Linked DNA regions of Homo sapiens: all the other regions are linked to region 3. The links come from fine-mapping of genetic effects on gene expression. A gene starts in region 3. Each other region holds a variant in brackets. All regions are shown on one strand. Distances are from middle to middle.

Region 1 (4,120 bases), 160 kb before region 3:
AAGATACATTCCAAAAGGCAGAGATCTTAAAATAAAATTCAACAAACATAGACTTGAGAAGAGCTGTGCTTCTGCCTCTGTCTCCATAATTAGACTTACATTTTCTTTCTCTTCAATTTGTTGGAATATGCTGCTTGGCACACTGCCTGGACAACACACTTACAAGTTTCGCTCACTGATGGACTGTGCACCCCAAGCCTGTGCTCTGGCACACCACTGACGGGCAGGAGGTTACCCTACTCTAGGTTATATGCATCATACATGGAAGCAACCAACTCTGCTGTTATTTTTAGAATGGTCCTAGACATACTCATGTCACAAATTATATAAAGTTTTCCCTTTCCCATTATAATTTCAATTACTATAATTAGTATAAGCACATTTGAATCAAAAATAAGTTCACTATTTACCTATAGAAAATGATTAAGTTTAGATTCACTTAGTAAATAACTTTAAATAATATACATTAATTTAAATTTTTATGACTTTTTGATAGAAAAAATAAAACCAGTATTTAACAGAAAACTTAAATAATACTTTTTTCTTATTTAATGTTTCAAAGACGTGAACTTCAATGTGTATTTGTAAGTAAAGACCAACAGTATTCTTATTTAAAATTTATAAAATTCAAATACTAAGAACTCTTAATAATTGCAGATAACAGAACAATTAAAATCTTAACAGCAGTTTTGTGACTCAGAACTAACTAGAATAATCTTTACTGACATATACACAAATAAAGAGGTGACAACAATTTAAATACCCAACGGTAAGATTTAAAAAAACATCGCTACGGCTTTAACGGATATCTCTTGTTGAATCATGAAATTAATCAACTGGATTTTTTTTTTTAATCACTACATACAGTATCGGAAACTAAATTTATTGGTAACTACAGCAATAAGTAATCAGTTACCTACATGATTTGCAAAATTCAGTTTCTGAAGAAGTAAACTCTGAAGATAATACTAAAGTTGTTAATTGAAATTATTTTGGAAGATTAATAGTCAAACTATTTTGGCTGCTCACTTTACACAAGGTCTCAACTTAAGTCAGCTTTAAACAAACTAAAAATCACTATATGACTATGCAAGGCTGAGGTTCAGTTAGTAATCATGAAGTCAAAACTACACAAAGAACAGAACTAAATAGAGTTTATAAAAGTGAAACGAGCACCGATGACTTCTACATGTTTTTGGAATCTGAGGAAGAGTAAATAAATTGCTGGTAGTATGGTGCCATGTGCCATTTGCTTATGAAAGAAAGTTTGTCAGGAAAAAAACAAAACCAATAAACGAAGCTATGTTAAAAAAAAAAGCCTCACCACTTAATGTCACACAGCCAGAAGAATCTTAATTTTGTAGTGAAGATTATCTGAGGTTACAGACTCTTATTAAGATCAACCTCAGGATTACATTTAGGCTCTGATCCTAATTCACAACCGAGGCTTGTCTAGTTCAATGTCATGGCTGGAAAATATGAAGGTCACAGAGACAGGATTCTGGGTACCTTAAATAAATCCAGTGAGGACTTTGAAATTCCAAGTGGTGGTAACTAGCTGGATGCAGAAGAACCCTAAGATAAATCCAGTGAGGACTTTGAAATTCCAAGTGGTGGTAACTAGCCGGATGCAGAAGAACCCTAAGATAAATCCAGTGAGGACTTTGAAATTCCAAGTGGTGGTAACTAGCCGGATGCAGAAGAACCCTAAGATCCCCGTTAGCCCGGCATCGCCTGCCTTTTACCCCCCCCCGCGCCCTGG[T/C]TACTGCTCACTCAAGTGCTGCCACACGATTCACAGCCTCGTGATAATGGCCAGCAGCCCCTGCACTTGAAGTCCTGTGACCTAACGCCGCCCTTCAGGGAATGGGCCTTCATAGATGTCTGTTTTCCGAAGACACCTTGGAGCGGGTGGATGGGAAAGACCTGCCTTTCACCTGACAGACATTCTCGACTGCCCCTGCCGGTGTTCGGCATACACTAAAGATGCCTCGCTGTTTGTTAACGGAGGCAGCAGGTCTGAGAGAGGGCTGGCAAAGAAAAGTCTTCTTCTGCATCAGGGGCAAATAAATCCTCTTTCTCGGTAACAATCGGAGATTTCAGTGACGACAGAGAAGAATCACTTTGTTGAGAGTGAAACTCGGTGGCCCATTCTAAATTTTTATAGTCATCACTGAAGCGCAGGAAACTCAGAGGGGCTGTGTCATGATTTTTTTCTATTCTCAAAGAAATATCACAAGTGATTTAATAGCCTTGAACATAACCAATTAAGATAAGCATGATTTCAGAGTGAACAGTTAACGTACTTACATGTGAATCACAGGAAAAGATATGAACTTTGACAAAATTCATTTAAACTATTACTGAACAATGTATTACTTTTTGCATGGTGATGCAAAGTAATACATTGTTCAGTAATAGTTTACATAACTAAACAGATAGAATTGCTGATGTGTTAGATGTGTGAACAGTTAATGTCGTTACATGCTAATCACAGGGGAAGATACGAACTTTAACAAAATTCATTTTAACTATTACCGAAAAATGTATTACTTTTTGCATGGTGCAAGGTAATACATTGTTCGGTAAGAGTTTAAATAGTTAAACAGACAGACGTGCTGATGTGTTAGATACACTTGACAGTCGCATTTTAATTGAAACGCAGCTGCTCAAATTTAGCAAGTCTATGCAACTACCATATGAGAATTCACAAAGGACAAGAAAATGAGCACTCTCACTCATTCCCATTCAGCAAATATGAATATCCACCGTGTACTGTTTATTAAAAAGCAAATCAGAAGAACAGTGGAAGCTAGAACACTGTATAATGTACTTTCCTACTGAGAAAATTTTGAGAAAAATCAGGCAAAAGCATATGGCAAACACTTAGAAGAGAAGGAGCAACTGGCACATTTAGAGAGATGGTATATTATTATAGAAAATGCCAATCTTCATTTACTCCACAAACACACACACAGCATCAGCTGAGTGTCACAGACTGCACTATGCTAAAAACTCTGAGAACAAGACACCCAAATGACGGCCTTGTGCTGAGACTGTCCAGCAAGGAGCTAGATAACGACAAAACATTTCCCGCGGGCACAGAGAGTGGCAAGAGCTGCTCTGGGAGCATCACGAATGGAGGTAGGCCAATGCGACCTGGAGACATGCAGGGGATGGGCTGGGTGAGCTCCCAGAGGACACAGGGCCCGGAAGGGCAGGAGAGGTTAGGAGAGGGGCAGAGGTGAGAGGGACTAGGCACAGGGTTCACAGTGCACGAAGCACCCAGCCTGCCTGCTGCCTGGGGGAGCCCGTGGAGAGGGAAGTAACTCATAGCAAGCACAGGGAGTACTGCTGGCCCTCTGCATCTGTGGCCTCTGCATCTGTGGCCTCCACAACAGTGGCTTCTGCATCTGTGGATTCAACCAACCATGAATGGAAAATATTCCGGGGTGGGGGACCCAGATGGCTGCATCTGTACTGAGCATATACAAACTTTCTTCCTTGTCATGACTCCCTAAATGATACAGTTTAACAACTATTCACAAAGCACGGGCATTGTATTAGGTGTTATAAGTAATCTAGAAATGATTTAAAGCATACAGGAGGATGTGCATAGGTTACATGCGAATATGACACCATTTCACACTGGGAACTTGAGCATCCGTGGAATCTGGTACCTGTGGGGATGCTACCTTGTCTGAGAAGTCTGGGGTTAGCCTCAGGGAGAATGAGCCTCCTCGAAGGTTTTTCAGCAGGGGATTGACAGGATCCAATTTATATTTTAGAAGGATGAGCTTTTCAAAAAGGCAGAGGTTGAGTCCAGCTGGAGAGGGGCTGTGAGGTGGAGCATTGGGGCAGTGGGCAGAGTGCCAGGGCAGAGGTGGGCACAGCACAGCTTCCCCGGTTTTACTATCATGAGAAGATGTTGTAAGAATTTTAAGTAAGATACTGATAGAACCTGCCTTAAACTTTAAAAGGATGTACTTTGAGGGTATGAACTGAATGTGGTTTGGGCACAGAAAGTGTGTGCACAGAAAAGTGTGTGCACAGAAAAGCACATGAGGAATAAGGGCTGGCATGACTGCCATGACTGTGAGCTCAGGAAATTCAATAACTGTGG
Region 2 (4,118 bases), 210 kb before region 3:
TATTAAATATATCTTTCAGAGCAGTTCACAGATCTATATGAAAATCTTTGCAACAGAACCAACAGATAAATGTTCAGTGACAAAAATGTATGCAAGTTTAGTCTATGCATAATTATTTTATGAATATTACATAAAATATATTTGACTTTTAGAAACCTAATCTTGATTTAAAAACTAGTTAAAATTTGTAACTTTTCTGAAAACATTACACAACACGCTTATGAAACTAACAGAATATCCCATAGCACGTGATCAAAACAGAAATACACACCACCACCTTGTACCAAATCCAGAATAAAAATATAATCTCTTCTATTTCTTCCCTTTAAAAAAATCTACATGCAAAGATGACAAGAGACAGGAGAATGAGTCAGTGTGCTCAGCCTAAGGCAATGATGCTTGTTTTGCAATGCCCAAATCATTTCTAGAATATGCTCTTTCATGGTACACTGATAAAGAAAGTCTTAGTAAAAAACCAAGTGATTTCTAATAGCTCTTTCCCATTCAAGTGAGGCCAGCTCAGCTAACTCACATGAAGCCATGCTGTGACCCACAAAGAACATGGGTGTGCTGGAAATGAAATGCCACTGGAGCACTGAAGTACCTTGAACCTCCCTAATTTGTTTTCTCAGCTGCCTCGTTAACTTGCTCCAGGTCCTGGTTTCTCTCTCGGCTTTCATCTAACTTATTTCATATTCATCTCCTCTTACCCACTAAACCAGGGTTCTGTAACTCAAGTAGCTCTTGAAATCCCCCTTTCTTCCAAGAAGTCCCCCCTGACTTGTTGGAATAGTAGTCCTTGAACTCCCTCACTTGGGTATGGGGTTTTTAGGCCTTTACCTTCCACTCTGAGCCATAAAAGCACTACCGGTTTCCGTGTTGCTACTGTTTATTAGCCTCTGGAATTGATGAACTTTCTCTGAGCTGTGACCCAGGTGGATGGATGTCAGAAAGCATATTCCGCTGGAAGGAAGAGCTGAGCAGTAGTGAAGTCAAGGACATACAGAGCCAGAGTGTGAACATGAGTCCTGCTACTTACTGCCTTGCAGTCTTACGGAAGTCACCAACCTCTCTCTAAGCCCTGATTCCTTCCTCTGCTAAATGGACGTGGCGGTAAGCTAGCCCACATGTATCATAAGGCTGTTGTGAGGATTCAACGAGGCACTTCATGGTGTGCCTCGCACATGGTAAGTCCCCAGCAAACAGAATTAGCAGGACCTGACAGATGGTTTCTGACAATGTGTTTACCAATACAGGGTTAACCAGAATGTAAGTATTTTGGGTGTTAACAGTAGAAATATGAAAATGTTGAAATAAAGACACTTAGGGAAAAATGTCAAGTAAATTACAACTTACATTAAAGGCAGATTCTTTATTGGCTGAATGTGCTGTAGTAGATATTTAAAATATCACAAACATTCATGATTGCAGTTTTTAAACTTAGCTCACAGTTGAGTTAGATACAACAGTTAACATACTTAGGAAAGACAATTCTTAACAGCTTTATCAAGCACATTTGTGAAAGATTAAACTTTCATTTCCAGTTACCATGATGTCCCCCCATACACCAAATGAACCAACACATTTATTTATTTTAAATAATGGAAACTGTACATGGCTACACTGTGCTCTAAAATTACTTGCATTAATGAGGACATTAATTTTAGCATTTAAAAAAAGAGATTTAAAAATAACCATAGAAAAACTTGAAAACCCTGACAAGCCGACTACAAAGAGAATTCCTCTCTGAAAATTTTCAGATGCGACGGTATGAGGGAGTTGGGTGGGC[C/T]GCTGACTCTGAGAGAAGTCCCGGTGACCTGAACCTATTCCAGTGAAGCCAGTCAGCAGTGAATGTGGGGCAAGTGCATGCGGCTGGTCTACAGCTCCCATTGCCTGGTGACCAAGGAGCATCCTGAAGTTTCAGAGAAGAGACTGTGTGACAGCAGCATTGTTCCAGCTACTGAGCAAGATCCTTCAGCAGGTAAGAAGTGGCAGAGACAGTCACCTGCTGAAGGAGCGGGCAGGGAGTTGGCCGTCCACGCGGAGCCTGGCCTTTCCGTTAGGGGACCCTGAAGTCTGCGACCGCCCCGCCAACACCTCAGAGTGTAACACAGTGCCCGTTACACATTCACACTCCATCACAGATAACACACAGGGCCTCAGGGACTGCAACACGTGCATGTGTAGTGACGCACGACAAATTAAGAGTGAGTGAGAATGAAAGCTCATGCTTAGCCCTGTGAAAAATAAAAATCAGATAGCAAAACGCAAAGTTAAATCACAGACACCTGGACCACAAATAATCTACCCCAGTTGTAATATGTATTTTAATGGAGACCATAAATTTTTCCAAAAACCCGCTTGAATTAGAAAACTTAAGGCCATTTATATGAAATGAGGGTTTTAAGCACAGCTGTACAGTTTAGGACAGTAAGAGCTCCAAAGATGTCTACATAGCTTTCCAAATCTCGTATCAGTCAGTCTCTCCGTGTGTCGTGGGAGCTGCCTGCGCTTCCGTGAACGGGACACTGAGAAATGCTTCAATATGTGCCACGCCATTCCAGAAAACTCCCTGCAGAAGCAGCTCTTCCTGCAGCACTCAACCTTCTGCTGAGATGCAAAATATATTTTAAAATGTATTTTAAAGTCATACAGGATCTGATCTAGTAAGAATGGCAAAACAAATACTTCCTGGGCATTTCAAATGAGGTCATTTTGGTTGAAATGTATACCAACAATTTTCGAAGTCAGAGGAAGAAAAAAGAGAAAAATGGCAAACCCAATGTTTAATACACCAAATACCTTTAGGGTACTTAGAGAGTGAACAGTCTTATTACGTGTTATTTTCCTGGACTTCTTTTATGTGGCAGATATTTATGTTTTCATCATGGTTGAAGAAGCTGCTTGGAAACAGGTGAGCTGCAAGTGCATGCTACTCTTGAACTTGTTCAGGAGCTCTTCCAGTAACCTGCAGGACGGAGACACTTGTTTTACAGCCCGACAGATGGGGCGGCCTAGCAACGCAAGAAAACACCAGGGGAGCCAGTGCCCGGCTCTGCCTGGGCTTGCTGTGTGGAGAAGGCAGCTGAAAAGTTCTACCTATGGATCCTTAACTCAGCAAAAGAAACACATCAAAGAAGTTGATCAAATAGGATATACTGATAACGTATTTATGTTTGTACAGAAACATCTCCTTCCTATCCCCTCCCAAGATTAGATTCCTCCCTAATACAGACTGATGTTTGGGCCTATTCTTTTTTAGAAATTCAACTCTAAAATAATTTACACACCTTCAAATTCACTTTTTGTTAGATGGTTCTATGAACGCTGGCAAAGCCATACCGGAGTGTAACAGGCTACAGCACGTGGCATGGCTGCACCCTTTCCCCTGCTGCCCCTCTAGTCAGCCTCTTCCCTAACCCCATCTCCCAGCAGCCACTGCTGACTTTCCCTTCCTCTCATTTTGTATTAACAGGTATTAGAGAGTGGGGAGCGAAAGCAGTGAGTTAACCACCAGGGCAAGCAGGGTTAGGGGCTAATTCCACTAGGCAAATCGCTTTGCTGCCTGATATCGCAATCTGTTTCCCCAACTGATGTGATACAGTCATCTAATTTTTTTTCTTTTTTTCAGATGGAGTTTTGCTCTGTCGCCCAGGCTGGAGTGCAGTGGCGCGATTTCGGCTCACTGCAACCTCCACCTCCCGGATTCAAGCAATTCTCCTGCCTCAGCCTCCTGAGTAGCTGAAACTACAGGTGCCCGCCACCACACCCGGCTAATTTTTGTATTTTTAGTAGAGACGGGGTTTTACCATGTTGGCCAGGATGGTCTTGATTTCCTGAAGTCGTGATCCGCCCACCTCAGCCTCCCAAAGTGCTGGGATTACAGGCATGAGCCACTGCGCCCGGCCCAAGTCATCTAATTTTTAAAGCTAGGAAGGATCTTAGAGTTTTCCTGGTTTGGATGCAGCAACCAAGAACTGGGTTTAACAGTACTGAGGTCAAGAGATTATTTCACGGTTTAACAATGTTCAATATTAGAATGCTATCCCCACAGCAAATCTAAAATATAGTCCTGACCTGGGGCCATTTCAGGGTGTGTATTGTTCGTGACACACTAC
Region 3 (4,120 bases):
AATAAACATTTAAGCACCTACTATGTGGCAGACGCTGGACTAGGAACCCAGGCTGGATTAAGATGCGTAAACTGGAGAATGAGTGGAAAAGTAACTGAGAGGACACCTCTGTAACCAGCACTTCCTGTATGGCCTAATCTTGCTGCTGCTTGACACTAGAAATATTAAAAGTTCTTTGCTAGAAGACTATTTTTTCAGTACCAACTTCATTTCCCATATGATTCTTACATAATGGGCTCCCAAGAACTTAGCAAGTTAATAACCATCTTTTAGAAAAGTAATACAGTTGACCCTTAAGCAACATGGGTTTGAATGAGACAGATCCACTTATACACGGATTTTTTCAACAAAAGTTGCACTGAGTGTGCCTGCATCTCCCACTCCCCTTTCACTTCCTCCATCTCTTCCATCTCTGCCATTCCTGAGAAAATCCCTCCTCTTCTTCCTCCTCCACAATCTACTCATGCAGACTATGGGGATAATAACCTTCATGATTCTCCACTTTCATTTAAAGAAGAGTAAATACATTTGTTGTGATTTTAACATTTTCCTCTCTCAGCTTACTTTAAGAATACAGTATATAATACGTATAACATACAAAATACATGTAAGTCAACTGTTTATGTATCAGTAAGGCTTCTGGTCAACAGTAGGCTATTAGTAAAGTCCTGGGAAAGTCAAAAGTTACATGGAAATTTTTGACTGCGTGGGCACCCCTAACCCCAGTGTTGTTCAAGGGTCAACTGTAGTTCAAAATGGCATTCAATACAGGAAATTAAATACTTGACAAGAAAAAAAGATCACTTTCTAAAACTTCCAAGAGTTGGTCCAAGTCACACTGGGGGAACTCTGCTTCTCTGCTTTAATTTATTAAGTTTCTACTTAGACAAACAAGTGAACATGTAAGTACTAAGCACACATCACCCTCTTTCTATTACTACTCTGGGAATCGCCAACTTTTAGCACAAAAAAATCATCTTTGAGAAGATTCTGGCTTTCAGTTGATTTGTCATTAAAGGAGTCAGTTACACAAAGCATGGGCCAGTACATACTAACATTCATAAACAAAACATTATTATGCATTAGAAGACAGATCCACATAAGCTCAGAAGTAACTTTTCAATATTGCATAGTGCACACAAAAAGATTTAATTAAAGTGTGGCTAACTTAGAAAAAATATTTTTTAAGTGTTCCTTGTAAGTTTACTCACAGATTCATAAAGGCATCAGACTTAAAATTTCTCAGACTTATTAGTATGTTGACCTTTGGCAGATTAAAAATAACTTACTTCCATTCAAAGACGAGTTCTTTCAAGAACTATTTCTCGGAATTACTAAAGTGTTTTCTTAACAATCTTGGGATACAGGGTTACGCATCACCAGGCTTCCAGGCTGCTGGTGTGCGGACCTGGAGCCGGCGCGCAAGGTCTCAATGGCAGCTACAACAGGACCTCAGGCTCTTTGCTCAAGCACTCTGAGCCGCCGCTCCCCTATCCGTAAAATGGGTCACACGGCAGCGTACATACACCCGCGCGAGGATCAAGTACGTGCACGCAAACGCTGACAACAGCGGCAGGCGCCTTTTAAGCGCTCAGGACAGCCAGAGCGGGATGCACGCCTAGGCAGACAGGTAACACCCGCCTCGCGTTCACTTTTCCGGAGAAATTCTCAAATCTCACGGAGTGGCAACTGCGCAAGGGCGAAGCGGCGCAGTCTGGGGCCAGCTCCAGCGGGCGGGGCCTGGAGTCAGCCCTCTGCAGCCCACGCCCCTCACCGGCGCAGGTGGGGACCGCGGGGGTGCGAACTGGCGGGGGTGGGCGCGGAGCCCAGCAGGCGGCTGACGGCGGGGATGGGGGCTGCGGGGCTGGGAACCGCGGGGGGTCGCGGGGCCCCGCAGGTGACCGACGGCGCCAGTGGGCGCGGCTGTCCCTTCACCGCTGAGGCCTGGACGGACGCCGCAGGCGGCCACCTCCGTGCAGCTGACGTCCATGTCCCGCTGGCCTTCGGCCAGGCCCTCCAGCCTCCCACACATACCTCCAGCCGTCCTGCCGCAGCTCACGGCCGGCACAGACAGGGCCCGGTAGGTCTCGCCGAAGACTCCGCGGCCGCCAGCCGCCGGCACCTCACTTCCGCCCGCCGCGAGCGCCGAGCGTGTAGATCCGCCTGGCAGTCGAGCGCCGAGTCCTCGATGGGCGGAGCCTTCAGGGGAGGGTAGAGGAGGGGAGGAGACCGGCGCGGGTGCTGGAGGTCAGCAGGGGCCGTGGGCGGTGGACGCTGGAATGCCTTGGGTTCCGAGGGACCCAGCTGCCTGAATGGACACGAGTAGGAGGTTTTTGCTGGGCGTCTTTGCGGTGGCGGGAAGCGGTGAGGGAGGGAAAGAAGGATACAAGCTCAAGGGGCAGGCCGGGTGCACCATCCATCCCCGTGCCCTCGGGTCATCTCAGGGAGACTGTGGGATGATAGTGCGTTTGTGGGCCACAGTTCACAACGATGGGCCCTGCATCGGGTCAGAGGACCCCTCCGGAACAGGGGGATGCACAAGGTCAAGAGAATGCATGGAATCAGAGGGCTGCACCAGGTCAGGGGGGCTGCACCGAGACCAGAGGAAGCATCAGGTCAGGAGGATGCACTGGAGTGTGCATCCCCAGGGGGCCACACTGGGTAAGGAGGATGCACCAGGTTAGGAGGCAGCACTGGGTCAGAAGGATGCACTGGAATCAGGGGACTGTACCAGGTTGGGGGGCGTGCCTCAGGTCAGGAGGAGGCACTGGGGTCCGGGGGCAACATTGAGTCAGGGGCAGCCCTAGGTCAGGAGGATGCATGGGGTCAGGGGGCTGCAGGGGTTTGAGGGCTGCACTGGGTCAGGGCGCCATACCAGGTCAGGGGATGCGCAGGATCGGGGGAGATGCCCGGGGTCGTGGGATGCTGGGGGTTGGGGGGATGCTCGGGGTCGGGGAGTTCTCGAGGTCGGGGGATACTCGGGGTCAGGGGGTTCTCAGGGTTGGGGGGATACTTAGGGTCAGGGGATGCTCTAGGTTGGGGGAAGCTCGGGTTCAGGGGCTATGGCCAGGGAGGAAGGACAATCAGGAAAGTGGGGGTAGCGGATTCTGGAAGCTAAATAGTTTCAGGAAGGAGGAATTGATAGCCAATGTTCAGAAGTACTGTGAGGCCAAGACTCCAGAGACAATTGAGTTTGGCATATGCCAGTCATTGGCATCCTTGACAAAAGCAGTTTCAAAGGAGTGTGGGGAAGCTACATCTCGTCAGAGTGGACTGTGAAAAGAATATTAAGTGAAGTGGAAAAAAGTAAGTTTCAACAACCTAGGTTGGCAGATTTAGCAATAAAAATACAAATACCCAGTAAAGTTTAATTTCAGATAAACAACAAGTAATTTGTAGTATAGATATATTTATCACTAAACTAATGTTGCATGGGATATACTTCTACTAAAACATTGTTTTGAGAGGTGACAGCGTGCTGGCAGCCCTCACAGCCCTCGCTCGCTCTGGGCACCTCCTCGGCCTTGGCACCCACTCTGGCTGTGCTTGAGGAGCCCTTCAGCCCACCGCTGCACTGTGGGAGCCCCTTTCTAGGCTGGCCAAGGCCGGAGCCGGCTCCCTCAGCTTGTGGGGAGGTGTGGAGGGAGAGGCGCTGGTGGGAACCCGGGCTGCGTGCGGCACTTGCGGGCCAGCGCGAGTTCTGGGTGGGCGTGGGCTCAGCGGGCCGGCACTCGGAGCGGCCAGCCAACCCGCCGGCCCTGGGCAGTGAGGGGCTTAGCACCTGGGCCAGCAGCTGCTGTGCTCAATTTCTCCCCGGGCCTTAGCTGCCTTCCCGCGGGGCAGGGCTGGGGACCTGCAGCCTGCAGTGCCTGAGCCAACCCCCCCCGCCATGGGCTTCCGTGCGCCCGAGCCTCCCCGACGAGCGCTGCCCCCTGCTTCACGGCCCCCAGTCCCATCGACCACCCAAGGGCTGAGGAGTGTGGGCGCATGGCTCGGGACTGGCAGGCGGCTCCACCTGCGGCCCCGGTCGGGATCCACTGGGTGAAGCCAGCTGGGTTCCTGAGTCTGGTGGGGACTTGGAGAACCTTTATGTCTAGCCCAGGGATTATAAATACACCAA
Region 4 (4,120 bases), 150 kb before region 3:
CACGTAAAGTTCTGGGACAGGCAAAATGATTCTCTGCAGATAGCAGCTGGAACGTTGCTGAGAAGGGAGCCTACTCAAACAGGGCACAAGGGAAGGTTTTGTATTTTCATCTGGTGGTGGATGCTGGAACGTGTGCATATGTAAAAAGCCATCAATCCATAAGCTTAAGATTTGTGTCTTTTACTGTAGGTAAATTACACCTCATTTTTTAAAAAAAGAAGGGAAAAGAGGAGTTGAAAATAAATAGATGTGCAAACAGTTAATAGGCAAATGCTACAAAAAGAGAGTAGAATGGCAGTATTAATGTGTGATGAGGCAGGATCAATGTCAGGAGTACACAGCTCATACTTTTTGTTGTAAGGATTTAAACAGATAATTCAGGAAACTTGCATAGCACACTGAAAGCAAATACATAATAAATGCTAGCAGCTATTTCTATTAACTCAACAGCCTCATTTTCACTAACACCCTGTTCACACTGGCTGCTGAACATAGAAAACTGGGTCTGCTTGATTCCTGCTCAAAAAGCAAGGGTCAGATCCATCTACCATTAATCGCTATCTGAGAGTGAGGAAGAAAGATTAACTTTAAAAACATCCTGACACTAAGGAAATCAGTCTTATAAAGTGATGTGTTTAAGGAATGCAGTGGTTAAACAGAGACGGAGCGCTAAAGGGTCACTGATGGGGGTGAGAAAGGCAGCAGAGTAGACATGCCTGAGGGTCCAGTGGCCTTTTAGGGCAGGTGTCTCTAACAAAAACACAGTGCCTCCTTTAAAAAAGATAACAATTTAATTGTGTACAGACAGTCCCAACTTATGAGAGTTCAACTCATGATTTTCCCACTTTACCAGGGTGTAAAAGCAATGCGCATTCAGTATGTTCCCTGGCTTATGATGTGCTACGTCAGGTTAAACCCACTGTAAGTAGAAAATATCTGGCCGGGCACAGTGGCTCACGCCTATAATCCTAGCACGCTGGGAGGCTGAGGCGGGTGGATCACGGGGTCAGGAGTTCAAGACCAGCCTGGCCAAGATGGTGAAACCCTGTCTCTACTAAAAATACGAAAATTAGCCGGCTGTGGTGACAGGTGCCTGTAATCCCAGCTACTAGGGAGGTTGAGGCAGGAATTGCTTGAACCCGGGAGGCGGAGGTTGCAGTGAGCCAAGATCACACCACTGCACTACAGCCTGGGTGACAGAGCAAGACTCTGTCTGAAGAAAAAAAAAAAAAAGAAAATATCATAAGTAGAAAATGCGCTTACGATATTTTCAATTTTGGAAGGGTTTATCTGGAGGTAGCCCCATCATAAGTTCAGGAATATCTGTATTCAGAAATAGACTTACTCACTGAATTCGTACATATTAGCACTGAGGAGGGTCTTTCGAAGCATTAAAAAACTGTGGGTAATAACTTACAGAAGTAAAAGGCGTATGCTGGAGGCAGAATTCTGGTGTAATGGACAATACTCCCAATAAGCCAGCGCCCTGCCACCTTAGCAGCAATCATGTATATACTCAACAACATTTCCATCTCACGCACCGGCACTGATGCCAGCCAGTGCTCCCAATAAGCCACCGCCCTGCCTTTCTTAGCAGCAATCACGTACACTCAACAACATTTCCATCTCACGCACCAGGCACTGATGCCAGCCAGTGCTCCCAATGGACAGTCCTGGAGAAGAGATGCCTAAGTCGATTGTCAAATTTCTCTAACTTCTTTACTGTTGTCTTCAACACAGTCACAATGGTTTAAAAGATAACATCATTATTTTGATGTATTTTAATGTTTCCAATTTAAAATTTCCAATTTGTGATTTTAAAAACTTTTTGATAATAATGTTTTTTAAAAATTATGCTTCCAAGAAAGAAAATAAACAACAAACAATTATTTTCATTCCAATTTGGCCATCTGTATAGAAATAAGGTCATCAAACTATCATTAGAACATCTATCCAAGTGACTCTGGATAACTAGGTTCAGACAAATTAATTTTTTTTAGCTCTTTTCAAATGGATGGCAGGACAGGTGGCAAACTGACATTCCTTTATATTACTGAACCACAACTTGTCAAATGGGGGCAAAATAAATGCCAAGTAAATAACTAATTTTAAAAAACCTCTTAATTCCTAGGAGAAGTATTAACACAAAAAAGAAAACTACA[G/A]ATGAAACAGGATATACTGTCACCTGAAACAGAAGGACAGCCTGTGTCTCCAGGACTTGTTAGCGAGGGCTTCCAAGCCACACATGCGCACACCATGCCCAGCTAATTTTTTTATTTTTAGTAGAGATGGGGTTTCACCATGTTGGCCAGGCTCGTCTTGAACTCCTCACCTTAGGTGATCCACCCACCTCAGCCTCCCAGAGTGCAGGGATTACAGGCAGGAGCCACCACACCCAGCCAGGAATTTTTAATAATCAAGTTAGTCACCTCACATCCTATATATTAGGCTTCAATTGTTTGCTCCACTGTTCTCAATAGGATAATCTTATCCTTGACGATTTGATTTTCTATCTATACAGAATAATCGGAAAGACACTGGAAAGAACTTTACTGCTACCACTATCTCCTTCCCTGATTTCTGAATTATACCATTCCAGAGTAAGTTAATAATTTCCCCTTACTTAGTAACAAAAAACAAAGTTTCTGGAGAAGAAACACAACTGAAATAACATTTCAATACACAGTAAATTTCAGCAAGATTAGACACAACTGAAGAAACAAGGAACAAAAAGAGAGAGCTGAGGAGATTACCCCAATCAGTACAGACAATTAAAGATGAGGAGAATAAAAAAGAAAAAAATTAAGAGATGTGAAGAATAGAGTGAGAAGGTCTAACATACACCCAATAGGAGATCTTAAAGGACAGAAAAGTTTGAATGGAGAAGAAAAAATATTTGAAGAGATAATGGCTTAGAACTTTCCAGAATTGATTAAAGACATCAACCAGAGCCAAGGGAACAAACAGGCCAAAAAACATAATAATACCAAGACACATAATAAAAATACAGAACAGAAGAGGCAAATAAAGTATCTAAAAAGGAGCCAAGGAAAAACCTTACTACATTTTTCTCAGTAATCAAGAGATCAAAGTCCAAACCAAACAAACAAAAGGACTGAACAACATAATCCACAAACCCGATGTAATAGACATCTGTGGAATGTGGTATCCAAAACGTAAGGACACGATCTTTTCAACCGAGGTAGGGTTTCAGAAAACTGTCCACATATGAGCTTACAAAGCAAGCCTCAGCAAACCTAAAAACATGATATTCTCTGACCTCAGAACAATGATGTTAGAAATCTCTAACAAAGAGAAAACTAATTCCAACTGCTCCTCTGCTCCCTTAGCTTGGAAATTTAAAATCATACTTCTAGCCAAGACTAAAATAGAATATTAAAATTCAAAACTAAAAAAAATGAAGAATAACTAAAATACCACTTGCGAAAACATGGGAAACACAGCTAAAAAGACACTTAGAGGGAAATTCACAGCCTTAAATGTTCATATTAAAAGACAGAAAGGTTTAGAATTAATGAACTATGTAAATAAACAAGATTAGAGTCCAAATTACTGCAAGAGAAAGCAAGGATATAACGAGAGAGCACTACTAAAGTCAAAAGTTATTCTCTGAAAAAGACTCTGGCAAGAAACAAAGAATAAAAATACAAACAAGCGATAGTAAGTACAAAAAATGACCATATCGCAGCTGAGGTTGAAGGAATAAAAATACAAACAAGCGATAGTAAGTACAAATAAGGACCACATCGCAGCTGAGGTTGAAGTAATAAAACTGTTATAAAACAATTTTACGCCAACAGATTTGAAAATTTAAGCAAAATGGGCAAAGTCCTAGAAAAATATAGATGACTACGATTAACATGAAGAAATAAAAAGCTGGATGGTTCTATAACCATTAAAGAAATTGGGCCAGTCATTAGCAATCATCTCACAAAGAAAATCTGGGCATACGGAAAATACCACTACCAGAGCGTTTTTCTAAATATTCAAAGAATAAATAATTCCAATCTTATGCAAACTCTTTCAAAGAAGAAAAAGGAATATATTCTTTAATTCATGTTACAAACGAGCATGACCTACATGCTACAACATGGATACA
Region 5 (4,120 bases), 120 kb before region 3:
GGCGCACCCCCCTCCACTCCCGCAAAACTCCAACATGCACTAGGAATAGCCTGAGTCTGCGTGGACGCTCGCGGCCCACCTGGCTGACACCGGCAGCGGTACGCTCGTCACCAGACACCCCCGCATTTCTCCTTGCCCTCTGGCAAGGAAGAGCCCCTCTCCCTCATGGCTGACCAGCAAGCCAGGGCAAGGGACCAGGTGGCCACAGCCTCAGTACTGGGAGGGCTACCGAGAGGAGGTGGCTTTGACTTATCAGCCTTGTCCTCTGGATAGTAAACGTCTCTTCAAAAAGTCCCGCCTTCTAACAGCAAAGGCAGGGGCTGCTGTGCAGCCAGTTGTGAAATTGCAGCTGATCAGCCTGTGAGAAATGCCATCATACACCCTGGGAAGTGAGAATGCAGGAAGGAATCCAGTTATCACAAGGAAACATTCTAGTGCAATCACATACTAAATAACCCCACCTAAAATAAAGAAATTTAAGAAAAACTAGAAACGTTGAAACCTCTTTGGCTATACATCATTTAACATAGCTATTGCTGTAACTGGGAAATAAGGGCTTAGACTTCTTGTGGGAAGAACAGGTTCATGGGAATAAAGCAAGTGTAGAAATTCAGGACCCACTCACCATGTCCTCTGTCTCCCTTCTTTCTTTTCACTCCCAGGGCCATGCCTTCGCCCTGCTGCCTCCCACCTGCCTCCCGCCCCGCACTCCACTCGGTGGCCATGGCAGGGGCACTGCAGAGTCCACCCCGTCCAGTCCTCAGCACAATGACGCCGCGGATCAGGCTCTAACTCCTACTCAGCAACTTCAGGGGCAGGTGGACTCCCATGAGAACGTTTATTCCCTGGGCCAGGCTAATTGCTAGCTTCCTTTCCAAATACCCCCAAGCAAAAGGATTTGCTGTTGTTAGTCCAGTGAAGGAAGGGCAAATTTTATAAACTGTATTAATAAAATTTCTTAATTTTATTAAGAAATTTTATTAATAAAATTGTATTAATAATTTATTAATGATTTAATAATTTAAATAGTTATTTGATCAGGTAATACATGGTTAGAAAATGACACCTGAAAGGTACACAGTGAAAAGTCTACCTCCTGCCCCTCCACTCCCAAGTGCCTAGTTCCCAGCCGGAAGAAACCACTGTCACTAGTTATTGTGACTCTTTCTGAAATATTTTTTATATACACAAGCAAGTATAAATGTGTTTTTCTCCCTCCCAACTGTTCTTTACACGTTTTTGGTTTTTACACAAACGAAAGGCCAAACACACTCTTTTGAAGCTTGGCTTCTTCCATTTAGCGATGGATCCTGGAGTTCTTCTGTATTCAAACGTAAGGCAAAGGCTTCCTCTTTTTCTCCCCACAGTTATACTGCCTTTCACATTTTTGACGTATCGTAATTTAACAAGTTCCCTTCCAATGGACAAGACTGTCTTCGGTCTTTTGCAATTAAAATGAATGTTTCAGCCAGTAACTGTATACCTATATCATTTAGCACATGCTCAAGTGAAAGCATAGAAAACGTCCAGAACAAGAATTGCTGGGACAAAGAGCACCTGTGGTTGTAATTTTGATAGATATTATTGAACTGCCCTCTAAAGGAAGTATGCCCTCATACTTCCACCGGTGACACGTGCAAGTAGTGGCCTCATCAATGAACAAACAAACATAGAAAACCCAAAACAAAACGATAAACACTCAGAGTTTTTGCCAACCTCGTATCTCATTGTAGTGTTATGC[G/A]ACCTTTCTTCTTACTATTGTGGGGTTGAGTGTCTACTCACACGTGTAAGAACCACTGACACGTCCTCTGTGTAGGCTATAGAGCCTCTTTATTTATTAGGTATATTAGCCCTTTGTCTATGCTAGGAGTTGCAGGAAAAAGTTTTAAACTCATTTTCACAGGTGTGAAAGGAACGGTTCTTTACTTAAGGGCACACTGTAAACTTTTATTTTTCATTCAGCTAATATTTATTGAGGATTAACCGTGTGCTTATCATGTGGCTCCACCCAAGATCAAAACTCACTCTGAATGCTGAACAAGGCAGGCTCTGCCTTCACAGCTTAGAATCTAACAGAACAGTCAATTAACCAATTGAATACACCATGATGGTAATCTGAGGTGAGTGGGTTTCATCTGGAGACAGCAGTTACAGACTCCTCTCCCCAACAGTAGTTGGTAATGCCTGTTTTCCAGATGGCAGGTGGCGTGCCACAGGGCGAGGCCATGGCCAGCTGCGTCAAGGGTCCAATGACAAGGTGAAAAACAGGACAAGAAAATCTAAAAATGGAAGCACTGAAAGATTTGCCTTTGATCGATTTGGATGTTTTGTCCCCACCAAATCTCATGTTGAAATGTGATCCCCAATGTTGCAGGAGGGCCATGGGGGCGGGCCCCTCGTGAATGGCTTGGTGTCCTTGCAATAATGAGTGAGTTCTTGCTCTATGAGTTCACACAAGATCTAGTTGTTTCACCCATTGCCCGTGTGCCCCGAGAACACTCTTGTCTCTAATCCTAATGGAACACCATTTACATTTCTATTACATTAGGATTAGAGACGAGTTGTTTAGAAATAATTCCAAGAACAGTTCTTATATTTTGTTTTCACACTGAAAATCAGTGATATTTGCTTCAGCCTCAAAGAACATGTTTATGTAAATTAAGTGAGCACCAGCAGTGAGCTGCACCTTTTTTCCCTAAATGGGAAATGGGTTAAAAGAGCCTGGCATCTCCATCCTCTCCCTCACTCCCTCTCCATCCTCTCCCTCGCTCCCTCTCCATCCTCTCCCTCGCTCCCTCTCCATCCTCTCCCTCGCTCCATCTCCTGCCATGCGACATGCTGGCTCCCCTTTTGCCTTCTGCCATGACTGGAAGCTTCCTGAGGCCTCCCAGTAGCAGATGCCGGCGCAATGCTTCCTGTACAGCCTGCAGAACTGTGAGCCAATAAACCTCTTTTCTTTATAAACTACCCAGCCTCAGTGTTCCTTTATAGCAACACAAACAGACTAACACAGCTTAATATGGCAGCAAATGGATTCTTACATGGTATCTTTCCCAAGAATAATGTTTCAAAAGATCTCAGCTCCTCTGTGCAATTACATTGAACATTATATAATGTTAGCTGCTGTCCCACAGAATGTAGGAGCAAACGGTTCTGATCTAACATTGTTTGTTCTAATGTTTGGTGAGCTGGGAGAGGAATGAGAATCGGACAAGAAGAAGGAATACCAACAGTTATGGAAGCCTTTCATTTAGTACAAATGAATCATCTAATTTTAAGGTGCTCTTATGATGAACATTCATTTATATTAATAAAACCTTCGAAAAATTCCCTACTGCAATGCTTGTTAAGAATAATATAAGACATTTTAAAACAACTGTACAGGTATCTGAATTTAATACAATGTAAGGTATTTCTATTAGTCTATTTGGGTTTCTTATATCTGTTATTGAGATCACAAATGGCTCCTGACTAGTGGCATCTAATTTGGTGCAAGAATGCCTGATAGTCGATCATGTTGTATCTCAAATAGGAAAATGGTAAATATCCACTCCAGAAAGTTCAGAAATGCAACATACTTAAAATTTTAGATGCTTCATCTTAGGAAAAATTATTAGCAAGTATTTTATGGTTAATTAACAGCCAATCCCTCTTTCCAGACCAAAGTTTAAATTTCATCAAAAAAGGTATACTGATACTACTTTTATCGCAAATTCCATCTTAATGAAGTTCTCACAGAATTTTTTTCTGTGGCACTTTAAAAAAATTCAACCACAGAAAAAGTAAAACTAGACTTGAACTAAATATGTTTAATAAGCACTGACCTGCACCCAATGACTTAAAAATCAAATAGCATTCCTTTAAATGTAATATATATTTTAATTATTAAATTACTGGTAGTTACTGTAACAAGCAAAAGCGATGATGGCTGATAATACTTAGCACCAGTATCAACACAAATTGGGGAATTTTCCAAGAGAAGAATGTTTGAAATTACACGAGTACAAATTTAAAAGACCCAGTGGCAGTGGAGGGAGATACTTACTGTCGTCTCGACCAGACTGAAAGCTGCTGCCCCTCTTCAGGGACGCTGTCTGACTGAGATGGCCCAACACTGAGG

Direction of the effects. Alleles are on the strand shown, and positions count from the first base shown. SD is a standard deviation of normalised expression in the study named. Not every link is listed here.
With allele T in place of C in region 1, the expression in monocytes after LPS of the gene that starts at base 2,155 in region 3 is higher (moderate effect, 0.55 SD a copy in Fairfax 2014).

The links. PIP is the estimated chance that this variant, and not a neighbour inherited with it, causes the effect.
Region 1: its variant is the best candidate, but not a certain one, in a credible set for the expression of EXOC2 in monocytes after LPS (Fairfax 2014, PIP 0.54).
Region 2: its variant is the best candidate, but not a certain one, in a credible set for the expression of EXOC2 in monocytes (Kim-Hellmuth 2017, PIP 0.90).
Region 4: its variant is the best candidate, but not a certain one, in a credible set for the expression of EXOC2 in sigmoid colon (GTEx, PIP 0.53).
Region 5: its variant is the best candidate, but not a certain one, in a credible set for the expression of EXOC2 in whole blood (INTERVAL, PIP 0.69).

What each region holds. Positions count from the first base shown.
Region 1 is chr6:527,373-531,492 of GRCh38, forward strand. The region is part of intron 23 of EXOC2 (exocyst complex component 2); the gene reads right to left. Among named protein-coding and RNA genes, the nearest start is that of HUS1B, 130 kb to the right of the region's middle. The variant T/C (reference allele first, on the strand shown) is at 1,763.
Region 2 is chr6:483,797-487,914 of GRCh38, forward strand. It overlaps EXOC2 (exocyst complex component 2), which reads right to left. Exons shown (of 28, transcript NM_018303.6): 28 at 1,358-2,968. The coding sequence ends at 2,875. Among named protein-coding and RNA genes, the nearest start is that of IRF4, 94 kb to the left of the region's middle. The variant C/T (reference allele first, on the strand shown) is at 1,790.
Region 3 is chr6:690,985-695,104 of GRCh38, forward strand. It overlaps EXOC2 (exocyst complex component 2), which reads right to left and starts at 2,155. Exons shown (of 28, transcript NM_018303.6): 1 at 2,035-2,155. RefSeq lists enhancers at 1,482-2,368, 3,798-4,120 and silencers at 1,775-1,844, 1,855-1,914.
Region 4 is chr6:537,854-541,973 of GRCh38, forward strand. The region is part of intron 22 of EXOC2 (exocyst complex component 2); the gene reads right to left. Among named protein-coding and RNA genes, the nearest start is that of HUS1B, 120 kb to the right of the region's middle. The variant G/A (reference allele first, on the strand shown) is at 2,163.
Region 5 is chr6:572,712-576,831 of GRCh38, forward strand. It overlaps EXOC2 (exocyst complex component 2), which reads right to left. Exons shown (of 28, transcript NM_018303.6): 12 at 4,046-4,120. Among named protein-coding and RNA genes, the nearest start is that of HUS1B, 82 kb to the right of the region's middle. The variant G/A (reference allele first, on the strand shown) is at 1,742.